2 linked regions of the Homo sapiens genome follow. The protein of the gene in region 2 binds, or shares a complex with, the protein of the main gene of each other region. Each region holds a gene or a part of one and is shown on either strand. Other genes may lie near its edges. The genes, in order: ODAD1 and ODAD4.

The links.
Region 1: ODAD4 (region 2) and ODAD1 share a complex: the UniProt entries of both Homo sapiens proteins name them as parts of the outer dynein arm-docking complex.

What each region holds. Positions count from the first base shown.
Region 1 is NC_000019.10:48,304,946-48,312,266, reverse strand, and holds part of ODAD1 (outer dynein arm-docking complex subunit 1), read left to right. Parts: intron 1-150; coding exon 151-273; intron 274-600; coding exon 601-714; intron 715-5,943; coding exon 5,944-6,011; intron 6,012-7,321. UniProt on the Homo sapiens protein: Component of the outer dynein arm-docking complex (ODA-DC) that mediates outer dynein arms (ODA) binding onto the doublet microtubule. Involved in mediating assembly of both ODAs and their axonemal docking complex onto ciliary microtubules.
Region 2 is NC_000017.11:41,933,381-41,940,701, reverse strand, and holds part of ODAD4 (outer dynein arm-docking complex subunit 4), read right to left. Parts: intron 5,486-7,321; coding exon 5,354-5,485; intron 5,232-5,353; exon of another isoform or gene 5,159-5,231; intron 5,104-5,158; coding exon 4,953-5,103; intron 4,230-4,952; coding exon 4,168-4,229; intron 3,941-4,167; coding exon 3,775-3,940; intron 2,146-3,774; coding exon 1,921-2,145; intron 1,738-1,920; coding exon 1,530-1,737; intron 1-1,529. UniProt on the Homo sapiens protein: Component of the outer dynein arm-docking complex (ODA-DC) that mediates outer dynein arms (ODA) binding onto the doublet microtubule. Plays an essential role for the assembly of ODA-DC and for the docking of ODA in ciliary axoneme.

The sequences.
Region 1 (7,321 bases), on a different chromosome or scaffold from region 2:
GGCTGGATAGTGTCAGCAGAAGGGTAGATGTTATTCTGGGGTGACAGGGACAGCAGATGTTTGCCATGCTTAGTGACTCATTTTCCCTGGGCCATTCAATCTCTCCCACATTCAGGCAACCAAAAACAGGTACCATCCTCTTTCTTGTAGATCCAGGAGTGGGAGACGCGGATCTTTACCCACAGTAAGAATGTCAGGTCCCCGGGATTCATCCTGGATCAGAAGGTCAAGATCAGGCGAAGGATCAGGATCCTAGAAAACCAGTTGGACAGGGTGAGGGTCAAACTCCTGGTCCCTCGACCTGAATTGTGCGGTTATGGGAAGAACTGGGCATGGTCATTGGATTCTGGAAATGCTGGGCAGTGTGTGCACATATGTGTCAGGACACAGGATTCTGGAGGGATGGAGGTTCCCAAGGAAAGGAGAATGATGGGTCCTTAGAGGGGAGTGGACATTGATTTCGGGAACCCCAAAGAACCTCTGTTTCTCAGGAAACAGGCCGGCCCAACCTCTGATAAGTGTCTCCTCCTTGGCTGAGCTTGGAGGAGGCAGGCAGACTTGGCTTCAGACCCACTCTTCCATCCACCTTTCTACTCCCAGGTCACCTGTCACTTTGACAACCAGCTGGTACGGAATGCGGCCCTGCGGGAGGAGCTGGATCTGCTGCGGATCGACAGGAACCGCTATCTGAACGTGGACCGCAAGCTGAAGAAGGTCAGTGGCCCTGAAATCCAGGGGAGGAGACAGGGACCCCTGCGCAGGTCCTCCCCACAGCTGTTTGCCCTTCCTGCTCTAGCACTCAGGCCTCAAGTATGGGATTGACTAGAGCGGTAGGCTTGCTTTAGTCCAAAAGGCATGGAGGCCTGGGAAATGTTGGAGGACATTTCCAACAAAAAAGTGGCCTCATTTATAGTTGTAGAAAGCAGAATGTCATTCTGAATAGTATCACCCAGGGCAATCTATGAGCAAGCAAGACCATTTATTATACATTCCACGGGGATCTTTGAAGAACCAGCCCTGTCCCCTCTCTTTTGACTTTCTTTCTTTCTTTGTTTTGAGATGAGTCTCACTCTGTCGTCCAGGCTGGAGCACAGTGAAGTGATCTTGGCTCACTACAGCCTGTGCCTCCCAGATTCAAGCAATTCTCCTGTATCAGCCTCCCGAGTAGCTGGGACTACAGGGGCCTGCCACCACGCCCAGCTAATTTTTTGTATTTTTAGTAGAGATGGGGTTTCACTGTGTTAGCCAGGATGGTCTCGATCTCCTGACCTCGTGATCCGCCTTCCTCGGCCTCCCAAAGTGCTGGGATTACAGGCGTGAGCCACCACACCCGGCCGATTTTTTTTTTTTTAAGTAGGGACAGGGTTTCACCATGTTGCCCAGGCTAGTCTTGAATTCCTGAGCTCAGGCAATTCGCCTGCCTCGGCCTCCCAAAGTGCTGGGATTAGAGGCGTGAGCCACTGCGTCCGGTCTTGACTTTCATTTGGAAATAATTTCAAATTACAGAAAAAGGTGCAAGAATTATACAAAGAACTCCTATATATCTTTCACCCAGTTTGATAATTTGCCACATTTATTTTCTCTTTCTCCCCCACTCTTACTATTGGTGTGTGTAATTATTGTTTTGCTGAGAATAATTTATTATCCTGAATGCTGAACTGTTTGACAATATGTTGTAGACATTATGCTCCTAAGTACTTGAGAGAGCATTTCCTAAGAACAACGCCATTTCCTTACATAAACACAGTGCTGTTATCCAAGTCAGGGAGGTTAACATTGTTAGAATTCTAAACCGTCCATATGTCAAGGTCACTGATTGTCCCAGTGATGTCCTTTACAGTGAACTTGATTTTCCTACTCTAGGCTCCGGTCCAGAATCTCACGTTGCATTTGGTTGTTCTGGCTCTGTTCATCTGGGTCAGTCCCTTGGGCTTTTTTTTCTCCATGACGTTGACATTTTGGAAGCATCCAGGCCGTTTGTGTTGTGCGATGTCCCCTGACATGGGTTTATCTGGTCTTTTTTTTCTTTTTTGATACTAAGTTTCACTCTTGTTGCCCAGGCTGGAGTGTAATGGCGTGATCTTGGCTCGCTGCAACCTCCACCTCCCGGGTTCAAGTGATTCTCCTGCCTCAGCCTCCTGAGTAGCTGGGATTACAGGCATGCACCACCATGCCCGGCTAATTTTGTATTTTTAGTAGAGACAGGGTTTCTCCATGTTGGTCAGGCTGATCTCAAACTCCTGACCTAAGGTGTTCCACCCGCCTCAGCCTCCCAAAGTTCTGGGATTACAGGCATGAGCCACCACGCCCGGCCGGTTTATCTGATCTTTCTTCATGATTAGACTTGGCATCTGCACTTTGGGGGGAATGTCACAGCAGTGATAGTGTGTCCTTCCTGTGCAAGATCTCAGGAGGCACCTGATGTCAACTTGTCCCATGACTAGTGATGTTGTCTTTGATCACTTGGCTAGCCAGGAAGAGTTTTCCTTTTTGTAGTGAATAAGTGGTCTGTGGGGAGATTCTCTGAGACTGTGTAAATATCTTGTCCCCTGACACACCTTCACTCAATCATTTTGTTACGGGATATTTACGGCGTCACTTTTCTGGCTGGAAACCTCCTTGGCCAGTGGTGCCTTTGCCCGAGTTCTTGTACTGTGTCCAGGAAGAAGGAGGTAGGCAGACAAGTGGAGCGTGAGCAAGATGAAGAGGAGCTTTACCGAGTGTTAGGACAGCTCAGAGGAGACCTGCAGGGGGCAGCTCCTCTGCAGGCAGGTCGTCTCGTCCAGTGTTCAGCTATCAGCAGTGAGGAGGCCCTGGAGAGGGTGGTTCCTCTCCGCAGGCAGATTGTTCAGATGTCTCTGCAGGCCTCTGAAGCTCTCAGCAGAGAGGGTAGCTCCATGGGTGGCCATGGGCAGGCCTGGAGGAGACGTTGCAAGTCCCCACTCATTTTGCAGTACTGGCAACCTGGCCCCCAGCCTTCAGGCCCTCCCTGGCTTGAAGGAGGGACCTTACCGGGTACTTGCCCTCTTCTGCCCAGGAATCTGCCTGCCTCCTGCTGCCATTCATGGCACTGGGCTGGACCCCAACCCCTCTCTGAGATCAGAGTGGGTGTGAGAGAGGAGAGAGGCCAAGCAGCAGGAGCAGACACGCTCGAGCCTGCAGGGATCGGGGTGGGGAGGGGGGTGCGGTGGTGCTTTCCTGGGCCGTTCAGGGTACAGGCTGCAGAGAACTTCAGAGATGCCTAGGTCCTGTGGTTGGGAGGGTGGCTGCAGCTGCACTCTGGGAGCTCCCACCCCACCAACTCGGAAGGGGCAGGACCCTCGCTTGTCCCCGGCTGCTGCCTGCTCCCTGGAGTGGGAGGCCCGGGTCTGTAGCTGCGGGTTGGGCAGCTGCAGCTGCACCCGGGAGGGCAGATCCTGCCTGCTCCTGGCTCCCTGCAAGAGCACAGAGAGGCTCAGATCCACAGCAGCAGTTTGGGCAGCTGTAGTCCCGCCCAGGAGGGCGGGGATCCTGCCTGCTCTGTGGAGCAGAAGGCCTGGGTCTGCAGCTGTGGTTCTGGTGGCTGCAGCTGCACACGGGGAGCTCCCATCCCAACTCAGAAGGGTCAGGGCTCCTACCGGCTCCATGGAGTGTGCAGCCACAGCCAGCAGCTACTGCCATCAATTTTATCATCCATGAATGATTCTTCCCTGAATGGTTATTACTGTAATGGCTGCAACAGGGTAATTTAAAAGACTCTGTCATTTCTCCCACATTTATAAGATCGCATTTTCCTTAAGGAAACACTTCTCGGCTGGGTGTGGTGGCTCATGCCTGTAATTCCAGCACTTTGGGAGGCTGAGGCAGGCGGATCACCTGAGGTCAGGAGTTCGAGACCAGCCTGGCTAACATGGTGAAACCCCGTTTCTACTAAAAATACAAAAAATTAGCCAGGTGTGGTGGTGCACGCCTGTAATCCCAGCTACTTGGGAGGCTGAGGCAGGAGAATCACTTGAACCAGGGAGCTGGAGGCTGCAGTGAGCCAAGATTGTGCCATTGCACTCCAGCCTGGGCAACAAGAGTGAAACTCTGTCTCAAAAAAAAAAAAAGCAAAAAGGAAACACTTCTCTTTCTCCCCCTGTATATTTGAGTGTTGTCAGTGAGCATTAGTGTATTCTGACTTTATAGATGATGATCCGTAACTGCCATTCATTTTAATATTCAAATTGCCCCAGATTTGGTTAGTGGGAGCCCCTTCAAGCTGGCTTCTGTGGCCTTTGGACATACCCCATCACTTTTTGGGAGTACTTCCTCACTTTCTGGCACACGAAGATAGTCTGGGTAATCTGGACCTTGTTCTGCCCCATCCCTGGGGTTGGCCATTTTTCTGAGGAGTCCCGGTTCTTTCTAGGGAAGAGTAGGTGTTGAGGCACTAAGAGACCGTTTTCTTTTTTTTTTTTTTTTTGAGACGGAGTCTCGCTTTGTCACCCAGGCTAAAGTGCTGGAGTGCAGTGGCATGATCTCGGCTCACTGCAAGCTCCGCCTCCCAGGTTCACGCCGTTCTCCTGCCTCAGCCTCCCGAGTAGCTGGGACTACAGGCACCTGCCACCACGCCCGGCTAATTTTTTGTATTTTTAGTAGAGACGGGGTTTTGCCGTGTTAGCCAGGATGGTCTCGATCTCCTGACCTCGTGATCCGCCCACCTCGGCCTCCCACAGTGCTGGGATTACAGGCGTGAACCACCAGCCTGGCACTAAGAGACTCTGTTGCTACTTGGGTGTCATTGCTTTGAGGCCCTTCCTCTGGAGAGAGCTAGGAAGCACACATATTTTATATGTTTTAAAATTCTATTTATGTTTTGTAGAGATGGGGTCTTACTATGTTGTCCAGGCTGCTCTCAAACTCTTGGGCTCAGGTGATTCTCCTGCCTTGGCCTCACAAAGTATTGGGATTACAGGCATGAGCCACTGCGCCTGGCTGACATATTTTACAATAGTGAGTTCACATTGATACCTCTGATTCCATTCCAATATCACCAGCTTTTTCCTGAGCATTCCTCATTTCATCTTTCTTTCTTTCTTTCTTTCTTTTTTTTTTTCTTTTGAGATGGAGTCTCACTCTTGTTGCCCAGGCTAGGGTGCAATGGCACGATCTCGGCTCACCACAACCTCCGCCTCCCGGATTCAAGCTATTCTTCTGCCTCATTGTCCCAAGTAGCTGGGATTACAGGCATGCACCACCACGCCTGGTTAATTTTTTGTATTTTTAGTAGAGACAGGGTTTCTCCATGTTGGTCAGGCTGGTCTCAAACTCCCGACCTCAGGTGATCCTCCCGTCTTGGCCTCCCAAAGTGCTGGGATTACAGTCGTGAGCCACCGCGCCTGGCCCTAATTTTGTATTTTTAATAGAGATGGAGTTTCTCTATGTTGGCCAGGCTGGTCTCGAACTCCCAAGCTCAGGTGATCTGCCCGCCTCGTCCTCCCAAACTGCTGGGATTATGGGCCTGAGCCACCGCACCTGGCCCTATTATTATTTTTAAATAAAGTTCACTTGCTTCCATTTGCATTCAGTTTTAGTTTTCTCTCCTCTCTTTATTGATTTAATTTCCTTTATGAATATGTAAAACATTAACAAGGTTCTCAAATCAAACTATTCCAAAAGGTCTCCTAGGGAAACGTCATTTCCTCTCCATCTCCTCCACCTCATTTCCACCCAGTCCCCGTAGGTTACTAAATATTTTCTTAGTTTCTGCTTATCTACAGAAAGAGCCTTTTGATCCAGCTTATCAATTTGACTTCACACCTCTTTAAAATCCCTTTCATGGGCAGTCGCTAATGAGGAGGGTCCACATTTGGAAGGCTCAAGAGCTTTACTCCTTATTGGAGAAGCACGGGGCCAAAAGGAAAGACTTCGAGCAATGGGGTTGTAAGAAGTGGCACTGATTTTTTTCTCCTCCCCCCACAGGAGATCCACCACCTGCATCACCTGGTCAGCACCCTTATCCTCTCCTCCACCTCTGCCTACGCCGTCAGGTAGAGACTGCGGGTATCCTGGGATGGCGGGACCCAGATGACTCAGGACGCACCTTTCCATAAGGCAGTGATGGGAAGGTTCAGGACTCATGAAACACGTCAGAACCTATTTTTTCTCCCATAATATCCCCTTTTTCTCTCTCCCCGCCACCAGTTCCCCACCTCCACTGGCAAGGTCCTGTTCTGTCTTTTTTTTTGAGACAGAGTCTGGCTCTGTCGCCCAGGCTACAGTGCAGTTGCGCTATCTTGGCTCACTGCAACCTCTACCTCCCAGGTTCAAACAATTCTCCTGCCTCAGCCTCCCGAGTAGCTGGGATTACAGGTGCCCGGCACCGTGGCTGGCTAATTTTTGTATTTTTAGTAGAGATGGGGTTTCACCATCTTGACCAGGCTGGTCTTGAACTCCTGAGCTCATGATCTACCCGCCTCTGCCTCCCAAAGTGCTGGGATTACAGGCATGAGCCATTGCACCCCACCGGCCCTGTTCTTTTTCTTGGGCATGTAAATTAACCTCTACTGACCCCATCTAGCACATAAGAATGTATCTACTGGCTGGGCGAGGTGGCTCACGCCTGTAATCCCAACACTTTGGGAGGCCAAGGCAGGCAGATTGCTTGAGCTCAGGAGTTCGAGACCAGCCTGGCCAACATGGTGAAATCCCATCTCTACCAAAAATATAAAAACTTAGCTGGGCATGGTGGCGGGTGTCTGTGGTCCCAGCTACTTGGGAGGCTGAGGTGGGAGGATTGCTTGAGCCCTGGGGGCGGAGGTTGCAGTGAGCCGAGATTGCACCACTGCATTCCAGCCTGGGCAACAGAGTGAGACTCCGTCTCAGGAGAAAAAAAAAAAAAAAGCGCATCTAGCACATATATAGTGCAGCAGGGTTCCTGGAAGCATCTGGCGAATTTGTTATTCGTCAGCATTGGTTGCAAGGGACAGAGATCCTCTCGGGCCACCTTCAGATAGAGGCACACTGTAAGGAGTTGAGGAGCTGAAGCTGCTTTAGGTGTTGGCTTCTCTCTCCCTCTCTGGGGCTCTCATGAGCTCCATGCTCTCTCTCTCACTCCATCCCTGTCTCTTTCTCAGCTTCGCCCTCTTCTTTTGCTCCAAATGCTTTCTTACCTTCTACTAAGTTCTTCTCTGGCTTCTGTTTTCTCATGGTCCCTGATCGACATCAGCTGTGGCCTGGGTCGGCCTTAGGGTCTCTGTGATTTCTCTCTTTCTCTCTCTCTGTTAAAACAAACGTGGCAAAATTCACCATTTTAAAGCGTAGAATGTAGCAGCATTTAGTACATTCACGGGGCCGTGCA
Region 2 (7,321 bases):
GGGTTGGTATTATTATGCCTTCATTAGAGATGAGGAAACTGAGTAGAGGAGCAACTTAATCAAATCCACACAGCTTCTAAGTGGCAGAGCCAGTTAGAAGACAGGGATCGAAGACAGGTCTGTCCCTAAAGCTATTTTTTTCTAATATGGGATGGCCAGTATGGGATATTCCTGCTCAGCACAGTGGAGGCAGGCGAGAAATGAACTGGGAATGGAAAGCATATGGGGCTTGGATCAGTGAAGAGGAAAGGGCAGGAGGCAGGAATGTTCAGGAACGTTTGACCCCAAGGGAAGATTGCTATAAGAGGGCCAGGGTGGGTTTAGAGAGGGCCTGAGGGCCAAGCAAAGGGGCTTGACCTTTAACCTGCAGGCAGTGAGGGGCCCAGGCCCACTTGTGAGCAGGGGAGGGAGAGTTCATAGCATGTGTCTCTGGAGATTTGTGGGAGGAGCTGGAGAGAGACAGCAGAGGCAGGGGAAGCAGCAGGACTCAGGTCGGCTGAGGGCTGGGCACTGTGAGGGCAAATGGGATGATGGGAGATCAAGGAGGCTCAGACTGGTGAGATGGGTAGAAACCAGGCAGGAGGAAGTCAAGAATGACTCCAAAGGGTAGAACCAGGATGCTGAGAAAGCGATGGAACCTCCGGGTGGAAGTCAGCAAGTCTTGAGAAGATCTCATTTCTGGAGAGCTGGTGTTACTACTATTGTGGATACCAGGCACTGTCCTAAGGTCTGCACAGGTACTTCTGTATTTCATCCTCCCTTCTGCCCTACAGGGTGCCCAGCTAACAGGAGGAGACCCTGAGGCTGAGGGAGCTAAAGTGGCTTATCTCAGGTTCCACGGCTGGGCGGTGCAAGTTCCACAGCCTAGGTCTGCCTGACTCCACAGCCCGTGCTCTTGATCAGCACCGGTTTTAAAAGACCCTGCTTGATCCATCCCCTGCCCACTTCCTTCAGCCTCCTCTTGGCCCCTCTCCCTGGCAATATGCTGTGCTCTCCAGGCTTAAGTACCCTCCTGTCTCAGGGCCTTTCCATAGGCCCTGTGTGTTCCCCAATGTCATCAAGTCCTCCTGGAATGTATTTCTCACCACACTGGATCCTGTACTTTTCTTTCATGGCACTTATCACAATTGCAATTAATTAGCTATGTCCCTTTTTGCTTGACATCTGCAGGGAAATGGCCCTTGTGTCTGGTTATTACTGTGTTCCCACACTAGCAGCATCTGGCATGTCTGGGGCTTCATGCATGCTCGTTAAGCTGATGTAAGAATATAAACATCCCTAAGAGCCAGATCATTGGGTAGCTTTTTGGAATTTTGAGCCACTACCCTTTTGGTGGCAAAAAAGCTAACAGTCTAGGTGCCCCCACCCTCAGTCCTGGGCAGGTGGTCCCCACCTCCAGGAGAATCTACCTCAGGCATGCAGAGCAGAAAATGGGAGTCAAGCCACCAGCAGCCCTGGCAAGGGCCTCAGATAGCCCCAGGTGTCCTTCTCCGTAGGCTCACGCCAGTGGCCTCCCCTAGGGCACTCACTATTCCTTGGCGATCTCCAGGTCCTTTCTGTGGCTCTGCAGGGCTGCCTCCATCTGCCCCAGCTCAATCTGGGCATTCCCTATGCAGCTATACAAGTTTCCAACCAGTTCATCCTTGTTGGGTACCTCTTCCTTGTTCCATTCCAGTACCTTCTTCAGCACTTTCTCAGCTTTCTGAAGACTCCCTTCAGCACTGCCACTTGTGAGCACTGAGAAAGGAAAGGGGTGCTGTGGAGGCCAGGGCAGCCTCCTCTTAGCTGACAGGGTAACTCCTCTTCCTGCAGACACCATCTGCAGGTCTGAGAGACCAGGGGCTCAGACACCTGGTTGCTCCTTCCCCACCTGATAAGGCACTGGAGGCACCTGCCCCACCCTCTGAGAACAACACCTACACATATCAATGTCCTCCAGGCTCTTGAGGATGTAATGGGCTGTCTGTGAGGGACGGCGTTTGTGGTCCCGCAGCCATTTCTCTTGCATCAGCTTCCGGTCCCGCTCCCTGGCGTAGATCGGCTTCTGCTGCCTCCAGAAGTTGCTGTGAGTATCCAGGTAGTTGATGCCCGTCATGATGAGGTCCTCCACAGTCAGGCCGCCCTTCATGGTGCCTTTGATCAGGTCTGTGGGGAAGGGGTGTGAGGAGGCGCCAAGGAGAACAGGCCTCTAAGGGATTTGCCTCCTGTTTCCTCCCGGTGGCCGCTGCAGGGCCCTCTGTGAACTTGCTCTGCTTGGAGTTGTTGAAACAGAGAGGAGTGTGAGTGCGCATAGTGGCAGAGTGGGTTTATCCAGGCCAGGAGGCAGCCAGAGCCCCACTATCAGGGAGTTCCATGCTATGGGCCCCTTATGGCAAGATATGAGGAGCTAGCCAGAAGGGGCAGCTGGTGGATGGCTCGCTGAGAAGCCTCGGGGCTTCCCCAGTTCAAGCTGTGTCCTCAGATAACACTGAGTCTAAATGCACGATCTGGCCCAGGCTGCCAGTGCCCAGTGATTTCCCAGGTGCCCAGTGGGCCTGTGCATGCTGGAAGCTGGAAGGCGGGTGCCCAAGTCCTGCCCACTGCCTGGCCAGAGGTTACAGCCAGAAGCAAAGCTACAAGGCCACTTGAGGTAATATTCAAGCCACCTCTTCCCTCCGCAGCGGGTCCTCTGGAGAATAGGAGGCATTCAGGCCTGTTGCTAAGGAGATGTGCCAGCAGTGAAGCTGTTCCTGTGTCACAGAACAGGGAACCCTACACATGACCTTGGGAAGCCAATTCTGGAGAAGAGGCATTTGATTCACAGGTGACCCTGCTCAGGCTTATCAGCTAATGGCAATACTCCCATCCCCATGTTGATGTGGGACATTCATCTCAGGCTTCTGTCCTTCATCCTGTCACTGGCAGCAGTGTGGTGGAAAGAGCACTGGACTGGCCAGGTGTAGTGGCTCACACCTGTAATCCCAGCACTTTGGGAGGCCGAGGTGGGCAGATCACTTGAGGTCAGGAGTTCAAAACCAGCCTGGCCAACATGGTGAAACCCCATCTCTGCTAAAAATACAAAAAATTAGCCGGATGTGGTTGTGGGCGCCTATAGTCCTAGCTACTAGGGAGGCTGAGGCAGGAGAATCGCTTTAACCCAGGAGGTGGAGGTGGCAGTGAGCCGAATTTGCTTCACTGCACTCCAGCCTGTGTGACAGAGCAAGACTCTGTCTTTAAAAGAAAGAGCACTGGACTGGAGGTCAGAGGCCTGGGTTCTGATGTTGACTCCACCATGAACTTGTTTGTCAACTTATGAAAGTTCCTTCCCAATCAGGGTCTCTATTTCCTTATCTACAAAAGGAGAACTTGGACCAGATGATGTTTCAGAGCATTCTAGAACTAATATCCTCGGATTTAAGCACATATCCGCTGGATTCCTTTGCCCATTGTAAGGATTGAAGGCAAAGGGGATGTCCCTTCAGGGACTATGGTGGTAAAGGAGACCAAATCTCTGTTGTTCCCTCCCAGGGTACCATAGCACTTAGGAGCATTGCTCTAAAATTGGACTTCCTGGATTCGAATATAAGCCATGTCATTGCCTACCTATATATGACCTTAGTTTCTGTTGGTCTGCGCCTCAGTTTCCTCATCTGTAAAATGAGAATGCTAATAAAACCTGTCCACAGGTACACGTCAGCTAATATTATATGACAGGTTCTGCCTTCAGCTCATGCATGAAGCATCCACCCAGATTTCCTTTCCCCCAAGGCCCCGTGCCAACAAAGTGTCCGAAACCTTCATCCAATAGGAGCTTCTCCAAATACTCTTTGTCCACGTAGAGCTCCCCCAGAAGCTGGCGGACAGTCTTCTCACTCTTGAGCGAGGCCTTCCACTTGGGCTCTCCCTTGGTGGGGTGTAAGAGGTGTTTCATGGGCTGAGGCTTCTGCTGGGCTTTTATATTCTGAGAAAATGGAGCAACACCCAACAGAGCTTCAGCAAGGAGCAGAGTGTACCCAGCCATGGCCCTAGGGTCTGTGATCCCAGATTCCTCCAACTCCAGGACCTTTCTGTGGGCCAAGAGTCACGGAGTATGCCTGGTCAGGTTGCAGCTAGACTCCCAAGACCCCTTCTCAGGCACACATAGCCTCTTCCCTTGGAGGGATACAACCACAGAACCAGGGCCCTTACCTCAGCCTGCTTGCTTAAGAAGGAGAGGTCCCCTTTGTTCTCCAGCTTAATGGAAGAAGGACCTGCAAGGAAAGAAGCTGGAGCTCAGGTCGGCCAGACCCCCCAGGCATGACTTATCACATATTTTTATGTAGAAATGGCTGCCTTTGGCAGGGGGATGGTGGAGGCTGTGGCAAAGCTGGCCCTAAGCCAGCCTAGCAGGCAAATGGTGCAGGCTGTTTGGTATAACTCCTAGGAGCTAACAGCCCCCGCTAGCCCAAGGCTATGGCAGCCAGATTTCCAAACAAAGGGAGGCCAAGGATGCAGGGGAAACTGTCCATTTCCAGGCCTTGCCACCGACAGAGCAAGCTCTCACTTGCTCTCACTTGCTTCCCTTCTCCCCCTGCCATAATGCTGATGGCTAAGGCCAGCCCTTGGTATGCGTCTGGTGAGGAAAGAAGCCAGGGACTATAGAAGGCTGGGCTCAGGACCGCATTATAGCTTTTGACACCAGGCTAAAGACAGGCCTACTTTGAAACAGCCCTTCTAATCTGACCTTTAGGAAAACCCAAGGCTGCAGCGCTCAGAGATCAGTGTGTGCATCAGGGAATGGTCCTCCCAGCAGACAGGTGGTGCCCGCCACCATGCCCGGCTAATCCTCAACAACACTGCAGCAGCCAAATCCAGGTGTAGGACTCCCTGCGGGCCTGGTGGTGGCTGCTCACCTGCTGTGACTCAACCTTCCTCTAAACCTAAGGATTCCAAGGACCTTCCTGGATAAGGGCATAGGCCCTGTGGTCACTCACTTCCCACTGAGTTGTTGATGGCTTCCTGGGCTTTCTGAATGCCAACTCTGAATTCCCGATCAGGCCTCAGCTTGTAGCCTCGATGATAGAATACCAAGGCAAACTCAAAGTCTCCCATGGTGTACAGTGTCTCAGCCTTTTGCAAAATCCCCTGGAATGGGAGGAAATCAAATCAATGTGAACAGATAAGGCCTTATAGGACTCACATGTGGTGGAACAGAAGGGTCCTGGGTTGAAGGTCAAGGTTGGAATACAGGGGGCAGGGACTTAGGCAATGACCTAGGAAGAGAAAATGGCATCAAACACTAGGCAGTCTGGCTGGTTCTACTTGTAACAACTACTTGTAACCAGAAGTTGCTACAGGCAATGGCAGGATCCAGTCCTCCCGCCCATGCAGTCACCTTACAGAAAGCTGGGTCACTCTGGAGCGAAGCCTCAGCATCCTTCAGGGATCTCTCCAAGTCTCCCATCTTCAGGAAGCACTTTGAGCGAGCAACCAGGCAGTTCTTGTCTCCATCCTGAAGGTAAAGAGCCTGACAAAGAAACCAGTCAGGTTGACAGCCAGCATGAAGAGCAAGGTAGAAGCTGGAGTGGGAAGGGCAGCCCAAACCCTCCTGCAGAGGGGATTTCTTCAGGCTCTGAAGAAATCAAGGCTCTGAAGAATCAAGGGGATTCTTCAGGCCAGCACACAGGCCTCTGGCTCCTAAGCAGAACAACTCCGATCTGCGCTCAGTCAACTTGATTATCTGCATATGGCTCACCTTGAACAAGGTCAAATCATGGCTATTGTGGAAGCCACTGGCTGAAGAGTAGGAATATGCTGCTCTGTGGATACGCTGACTTTCCACCAATGTCTGAGAGCCCCTCAGTCCCCTCAGGCAATAGAACTGTAGGGTATTTTGTGCACACCAAACTCAACTACAAACCTGAAATGGCAACACATCATACTCAAAGCAAATTTCAAAGGCTAAGCATTCTGAAGTGGACTTGAGGACAATCTGCCATGTGGCTTAACCATTCCAGTAGCCTTCTCTTTTTATGTAGCTAATCAAGAACTAATCACTATATCCGGGGATTAAGATGAAAATACCAGGAAAAGGCTGGGAGTGGTGGCTCACACCTGTAATCCCAGCACTTTGGCAGGTCGAGGTGGGCGGAACGCTTGAGCCCAAGAGTTTGAGACCAGCCTGGGCAACATGGCAAAACCCTGTCTCTACGAAATACAAAAAAATTAGCTGGGCGTGGTGGTCCATGATTGTAGTCCCAGCTACTCAGGAGGCTGAGATGGGAGGATTGCTTGAACCTGGAGAGGTCGAGGCTGCATAAGCCATGATCACACCACTGCACTCCAGCCTGGGTGACAGAATGAGACTCTGTCTCAAAAAACAAAACAAAACAAAACAAAAAGAGGCCGGGTGCAGTGGCTCACACCTGTAATCCCAGAACTTTGGGAGACCAAGGTGGGTGGGTCACTTGAAGTCAGGAGTTTGAGACCAGCCTGGCCAACGTGGTGAAACCCATTTCTACTAAAAATACAAAAATTAGCCAGACATGGTGGTAAGCACCTGTAATCCCAGCTACTCGGGAGTCTAAGGCAAGAAAATCGCTTGAACCTGGGAGGCAGAGGTTGCAGTGAACTGAGATCATGCCACTGCACTCCAGCCTGGGTGATGGAGTGAGACGCTGTCTCAAAAAAAAAAAAAAAAAAAAAGAAAGAAAGAAAAAAGAAAGAAAGGGAAAAGAAAAATGAAAAACAAGAAAGAAAAAAAAAAAAGAAAATGCTAGGAAAATGAAACTGATTTTGACCCTAAAGTGGGGTTGAGGGCAATATCCCCACTCCCAGTGTCCTCTTTTCTGTGTGAGATGATTACCATAGTCTGTGGTGTACTGTCCTTCCTGAGGCATCTAACTGTACCCACCCCCCTTTTTCTTTTTTGAGACAGAGTCTCACACTGTCACCCAGGCTGGAGTGCAGTGGCACGATCTCTGCTCACTGCAATCTCCGAGTCCCGGGTTGAAGCAATTCTCCTGCTTCAGCCTCCCGAGTACCTGGGACTACGGGTGCCCGCCACCACACCTGGCTAATTTTTTTTTTTTGAGATGGCGTTTTGCTCTTGTTGCCAAAGCTGGAGTGCAATGGCACGATCTCGGCTCACTGCAACCTCCGCCTCCCGGGTTCAAGCAATTCTCCTGCCTCAGCCTCCGGAGTAGCTGGGATTACAGGCACTCGCCACCACGTCCGGTTGATTTTTTGTATTTTTAGTAGAAACAGGGTTTCACCATGTTAGCCAGGCTGGTCTCAAACACCTGACCTCAGGTGATCCACCTGCCTTGGCCTCCCAAAGTGCTGGGATTACAGGCATGAGCCA